2 linked regions of the Homo sapiens genome follow. The protein of the gene in region 2 purifies or fractionates together with the protein of the main gene of each other region. This does not show direct contact. Each region holds a gene or a part of one and is shown on either strand. Other genes may lie near its edges.

Evidence for each region.
Region 1: the proteins of RAB21 (region 2) and ANKRD27 purify together in Homo sapiens (affinity purification with mass spectrometry; one large-scale study listed by BioGRID and IntAct). This does not show direct contact.

What each region holds. Positions count from the first base shown.
Region 1 is NC_000019.10:32,640,681-32,644,180, reverse strand, and holds part of ANKRD27 (ankyrin repeat domain-containing protein 27), read left to right. Parts: intron 1-549; coding exon 550-609; intron 610-696; coding exon 697-750; intron 751-828; coding exon 829-894; intron 895-981; coding exon 982-1,058; intron 1,059-2,035; coding exon 2,036-2,157; intron 2,158-3,500. UniProt on the Homo sapiens protein: May be a guanine exchange factor (GEF) for Rab21, Rab32 and Rab38 and regulate endosome dynamics.
Region 2 is NC_000012.12:71,792,863-71,796,362, reverse strand, and holds part of RAB21 (ras-related protein Rab-21), read right to left. Parts: 3' UTR 1-3,500. UniProt on the Homo sapiens protein: The small GTPases Rab are key regulators of intracellular membrane trafficking, from the formation of transport vesicles to their fusion with membranes.

The sequences.
Region 1 (3,500 bases), on a different chromosome or scaffold from region 2:
TAGTTTAACCGGGCATGGTGGTACAAGCCTGTCTTCCCAGCACTTTGGGAGGCCGAGATGGGAGGATCTCTTGAGGCTGGGAGTTCAAGACCAGCCTGGGTAACATAAAAAGACCCCATCATTACAGAAAATACAAAAATTAGCCAGGCATGGTGGCATGCACGTGTATTCCCAGCTACTTGGGAGGCCGAGGTGGGAGGATGGCTTTAGCCCAGGAGTTTGAGACTGCAGCGTGCTATAGTCATACCACTGCACTCTACTCTGGGCAACAAAGTGAGACCCTGTCTCTTAAAAAGAAAAAACAAACCAAGTGGTAAAGTCATGGGGAAGTATAACAATGAGTATTATTATCCTCTGTGTTAACCCCAAGGGGAAGTTTCTCCTGCTTTTAATGCATATACACCTAAAAAAAAAGTTGAGAAAAATCACGTAATTGACTTCATAAAGCTTGTGTTAGCACTTGAAGCTCTGTGCGCCTTACCCGCTCCGGCTCCCCCGTCATGGCCTTGCTGGTAAGGGTGGCCTGTCCCTCTGCTCTATGTGGTTTAGGACTCAGCGAATGCTCTCTACACCAAATGCCTCCAGCAGCTTCTGAGGGACTCTCACCTGGTAAGCAGCAGGACTTCTGAGAGGGAGAATTGTGGTGCACCCCCATGCAAATCCAAGCCCTTTCACTGTGCTTTTCTTGCCCTCTAGAAAATGCTCGCCAAGCAGGAGGCCCAGATGAACCTGATGAAGCAGGCAGTGGAGGTGAGGGTGGGGCGGAGTGGCTGGGAGGCACACCCTGTTGCCCGCTCACACCCTGAATGGGGTCTGTTGATTCCACAGATATACGTCCATCATGAAATTTACAACCTGATCTTTAAATACGTGGGGACCATGGAGGCAAGTGAGGTAGGTTCTCAGTTATTATCACCCAAGATGGAAGCCTTCTTCTGTGCTTTTTGAGAAATTTGAAGGTTCGTTAAAATCTGTTGTTAGGATGCGGCCTTTAACAAAATCACAAGAAGCCTTCAAGATCTTCAGCAGAAAGATATTGGTGTGAAACCGGAGTTCAGGTAAGGGTTTGCGCCACAGCGGCTTGGTGTCCTCAGAGGCAGGGGTGCTGTCTTCTCCCGGAAGCAGGCCCTCTCGGTGGCAGAGGTGACACGCTGGTTTGATGTGGTTAGTTCTGAGGAGCAGCGCAGTTACTTGCAACCAAAGATAAAGGGCTGCCCTTTATAGGTGACTGTGTGTGGCCGTCCCCCTCCCACACTGCACCAGCACGCCAGCTGGATGGGAGCCGCTGGGCACGGGGTTTTGTGCAGCTGGTCCCCAAGTGGGCATGTAATTTGCCCATGTGGGTTCTGCGTGCAGGGGACATCCCACCTGCCCACCCAAGGGAACCTTGCCATAGAGATACCTACTTAGGAGTTAATTCATTTCTTTAATTTTTATTCTTTTTGAGACAAAGTCTCACTCTGTCGCCCAGGCTGGAGTGCAGTGGTGTGATCTCGGCTCACTGCAACCTCTGCCTCCTGAGTTCAAGTGATTCTCCTGCCTCAGCCTCCCGAGTAGCGGGATTACAGGTGCACACTACCATGCCCTGCTAATTTTTGTATTTTTAGAAGAGATGGGGTTTCACCATGTTGGCCAGGCTGGTCTTGAACTCCTGACCTCAAGTGATCTGCCCACCCTGGTTTACAAGTGCTGGGATTACAGGCGTGAGCCACTGCGCCGAGCCTAATTTAAGTTTCATTAGGACACAAAAATGTTTCACCTACCACAACCCTCTTTGGGTTGTTTCCCTCTAGGAATAGGATTTTTTTTTTTCAGCTTTTCTTGTACAACTCTATCACCTGGCAGCCTGAATGGGATTGAAGGCTCTTCTGTTTTGCCGCTGACTTGAGTCAGATGACTTCTCAGTATCTGTTTTTGTGTTTCATTCCTTCTGGTTTGTTGTGAGAAGTGTAGATCCTGAGATGTGTTCTTAGATCCAGGCCAGAGGGTTCTCTTACTGTGCTCTGAAGTTGTCACTTTCCAAATTATTTTACAGCTTTAACATACCTCGTGCCAAAAGAGAGCTGGCTCAGCTGAACAAATGCACCTCCCCACAGCAGAAGCTTGTCTGCTTGCGAAAAGTGGTGCAGCTCATTACACAGTCTCCAAGCCAGAGAGGTTTGTGCTTGGAAAGGGGACTGGCCAAGGGGTAGATGCTACATCCAGATGAAAAAGCAAAGAGTGATGCTGTCTTAAGGGATTTTTATGGGGCTGGGTGCAGTGGCTCACCTCTGTAACCCCAGTGCTTTGGGAGGCCAAGGTGGGAGGATCACTTGAGGCCAGGAATTGGAGGTTGCAGTGAGCTATGATCACACCAGTGCACTACAGCCTGGGTGATAGAGTGAGACCCCTTCTCAAAAAAAAAAAAAAAAAAGAAGAAGTAAAAGAAAACAAGTCAAGAAAAAGTCAGTAAGGAAGAGACATAGCTGTATGTGTAGATAAGGGATGATCCTGAGTGTATGGAATGAAATAAACAGGAATGCATATGGTAGACTTCCAGCCAACAGCATCAAAGAATGGGGGATAGCTGTTTAGCCACGATATGATGGTGAGCTCATAGCTGTCCTGGACAGATGTGCAGGAAGCAACAGCAGGAGCCTCTGGGAAAAGAGACTGGCTGGCAGGGATGGGAGGAACATTCACAGTTTGCTCTTTTGTATTGTTTGAATTTTTAAATGTGAATGAATTACTTAAAATTTCAAAATGGAAAAAAAGTGAAACTCCACATGGGCAGTGGACTCCATGTCTATAAAATGGAAGTGACCTTAGGAAGGACCTTGGTGACTTTAGGAAGAAAGAGACTTTAGGTGATGGCTCTGGGCTCATCTTCATTTTTTATCACTGAAGCCACCTCCCTGGGCTCTTTCAGCGTCCAAGGGGGTGGCAAGGCATGGTCTGCTTGGAGTTAACATATTTTTTTTTTTTCTTAAGAGACAGGGTCGGCTGGGCGCGGTGGCTCACACCTGTAATCCCAGCACTTTGGGAGGCTGAGGCGGGCAGATCACGAGGTCAGGAGATCGAGACCATCCTGGCTAGCACGGTGAAACCCTGTCTCTACTAAAAATGCAAAAAAAAATTAGCTGGGCATGGTGGCGGGCACCTGTAGTCCCAGCTGCTCAGGAGGCTGAGGCAGGAGAGTGGCGTGAACCCGGGAGGCGGAGCTTGCAGTGAGCCAAGATTGCGCCACTGCACTCCAGTCTGGGTGACTGAGCGAGACTCCGTTTCAAAAACAAACAAACAAAAAAAAGAGACAGGGTCTCACTCTGTCACCCAGGCTGGGTGCATTTGTAGATCACTACATCCTTGAACTCCTGGGCTCAAGTGATCCTCTTGCCTCAGCCTCCCAAGTACCTGGGATTACAGGCATGCACCACCACCCTTGGCTAATTTTCATATTTTTTTGTAGAGGTGGGGGTCTTGCTATATTGCCCAGGCTGGCCTCAGACTCCTGGCCTCAAGCA
Region 2 (3,500 bases):
GAAATAATATGAAAATTAAGGAAAGTACAGACAAAAAGTAGCTCTTAAAACTGCCCAGCAAAATGGATAAAATTTGTAGAGTTCCCTCACAGGGCCATGAGACACTATCCCAAGAGTAACTCTAAAGCTATTCTCAAATCTCATGATGAGGTTCTCTACTTCAATAACCAATTCCTCCTTGGACCTTATATTTCTTGGATTTTACATTGTCTGTGTGTATACCACAGAGGCTATTCTATGCTTTGCCTCTTTTCCTGTCCATTTCCTGTTTAATTCTCAGAGTGCCCCATCAGGCATTTGCAGAGAGGCTCCTTGTAGCATTTCTTGGCGAGTATGTACATTAGAATGTCATAAAATTTCATTTGAGTTTATATGGTAGTTTTAATGGTTTGCTTTGAATCTCCCATTAGATGTATTAAATTAAGTAACTGGCACATGCAATTTCTAGTTGCAAATAAATAAAAAGCAAAAACAGCAAAATTATCTTGAAAAACTGAAGAAGTAAAAAACTTCACATATACTTTAAAAAATTCCATCACAGACTAAGGATTTTTGGACACAAAATTCTACTCAGTTTTCAACAATGTAGCAAAAAATGGGGGTGAACACCTCCAGTTCTCTAGTTCCAGTGTTTCCAAGAGATGACAGGTATCATCCTAATGAGCTTCAAAAAACCAGAGCAGAGATGTAAGTGAATTCAAGGACAGCATTACTAAAAATTATGGCATATAAAAAATTTAGAATTCTTCATGCAAATACCAGGTAGCTGGAAGCTTCTGTGTAATTTATAATTTACTGATCACAAATAAAGGCTTTTTTTTTCTTCTTTTGCCCAACTCTGAAAGAGGTATTAGTTAACCTTAAATTAGTTAAATTTGTGACTAGAGGTCATAGAAACAGTCATAGTCTTCCCTAATGATGTTTAAGCTGACTTTAAATGTCAGTAGAAGGCATTATTACGCTAGGGACATTCCCAAATTTCTCCATTTTATTAAATATAAGGTTTTGTTCTGTTTTGTTTTGTTTTCAAGCAGTGCTTGGCTTAGAACAGCTGCTGCTGCTTCTTTTTTAAGCACCACTACAAATACCATGATGCTTTGACAATATTTTTAAGGGGCTATTCATGGATTCTTAACTTTTAATATTCTGAATCACAAATCTTGCTCATTTTTATTTCTCTAATGAAATCCATCCATATTCCTAGAATTCATTATCAATAGAAAAGGACAAATAAAAGTCACTTGCCAGACTAGTGGTCTTAATCATCATTGAACTCTTTAGCTCTTAGTTCCATATTTAAGAAAATTCCCCCCAATTTTCAATAATCTTATCCCTGTCAAACATTCCACAGATGAGAATTGCTTACACATGGTGATTACTATGAAAATAATTCGACATCTAGTTAACAACTTTTAACTTTTTTTTTGAGACAGAGTCTCACTCTGTCACCGAGGCTGGAGTCCAGTGGCACCAGGTCTGCTCACTGCAACCTCCGTCTCCTGGGTTCAAGCAATTCTCCTGCCTCAGCCTCCCAAGTAGCTGGGATTACAGGGGCTCACTACCATGCCCGGTTAATTTTATATATATATAATATATATATGAAATATATATAAATTTATAAATATAGCTGGGCTCGGTGGCTCACGCTTGTAATCCCAGCACTTTGGGAGGCCGAGGCGGGCGGATAACAAGGTCAGGAGATAGAGACCATCCTGGCTAACACGGTGAAACCCCATCTCTACCAAAAAAATACAAAAAATTAGCCAGGCGTGGTGGCGGGCGCCTGTAGTCCCAGCTACTCGGGAGGCTGAGGCAGGAGAATGGTGTGAACTCGGGAGCCGGAGCTTGCAGTGAGCCGAGATAGCGCCACTGCACTCTGGCCTGGGACAGAGCGAGACTCCGTCTCAAAAAAAAAAAAAAAAAAAAAAAAAAAAATATATATATATATATATATATAATATATATATGGTTTTGTTTTGTTTTGTTTTTAGTAGAGACAGGGTTTCACCATGTTGGCCAGGCTGGTCTCGAACTCCTGACCTCAGGTGGTCCACCTGCCTTAGCCTCCAAAAGTGCTGGGATTACAGGCGTGAGCCACCATGCCACAACTTTTAACTTTTTTTTTTCTTTTTTCTTTTTTTGAGACAGGGCCTCACTCTGTCGTCCAGGCTGGAGTGCAGTGGTGCGACCTCAGCTCATTGCATCCTCTAACTCCCAGGCTCAAGCAATCCTCCCATCTCAGCCTCCTGAGTAGCTGAGACTACAGGCACACACCACCACACCTGGCTAATTTTTGTATATTTTTGGATAGAGATGGGGTTTCGCCATGTTGTCTACACTGGTCTTGAATTCCTGGGTTTAAGGGATCCATCCACCCACCTCAGCCTCCCAAAGTGCTGGATTACAGGCATGAGCCATGGCTCCCAGCCAGCTTTTAACACTTTTGATTGGAAAGGGCCAGCTTTAGTCTTAGCAGAGCAGCAAATGTCAGCCTCAAGGCAACATACCAAAGTAGTAAATTATTAGCCTAGAACCTAGAACCCAGAACCCAAAATCTACCATCTCCTTCCTTTAACAATGCCCTTTCTGACCATCTTCAAGAAAGTTCACCCAAAATTATGTCTTTCGCATAAATAAATTTCTTATGCCACTACTTTTGGCTAAAATCTTTTGATGGGGATGAATTACTCCTCTCACATCCTCTAGCTTTTCCTTTACAGGACTTTTATGTTTTGAAGAACTCATTAAATCACTAAATTTACTAACCTTTTGTGAACTAGTAAGAATGAAAGTAACTTGTGTATAACCAACTAATGGGATAGTTTGTGTGTGTGTGTTTAAACGGATGATTTCGCTCTATTTTCTAACCAGAAGGGCCAGGAGGACTAGATGATTTAACTTTATTATATTGTAATATCAAAAATATCCTTAAAAGACACTGAAAAGATGTTTAGAAAATTCATATTCATTAAACCATCTTTCTGACCTGTATCTTCAATTTCAGATAGAAAAAAAGGGACCCACACTCTTAAACTGGAGAGTGCATTTAGAATTACACAAACTATCCTACTATGACTCAGGAATGGATTGTGTTCTGGCTTACTGTGTGGTGACAAGGCCACATCTGTCAAAGGCAAAGAAAACAACATGATTGCTTTTTAAATTGTATTTTTTCTAGGTTAAAAAAAATCACCGCAAAACCAAACCAAACCAAACAAAAATGGCTGCTGTCTAAATAAGCAGGAGGCATCAGTTTATTCACTGCTACCACAAAATTTGGAAAAGCAATTTGGGTTAGAGGATCACTTAATTACCCCCTTGAAGCTAGAAAGTAAGTTATTCAATTTTAATCTGGCTTGAAAATGTATTATTTGCAAAATTCAAAAACATTCTTTCCAGCTTTACCTCAAATTCACTGTCAGCTTCAACTACTGTCATTCTAATTATCTCACTCCAAAAGTTTGGCAGGTACATATCTGATCAAACACAGAATGTGAACA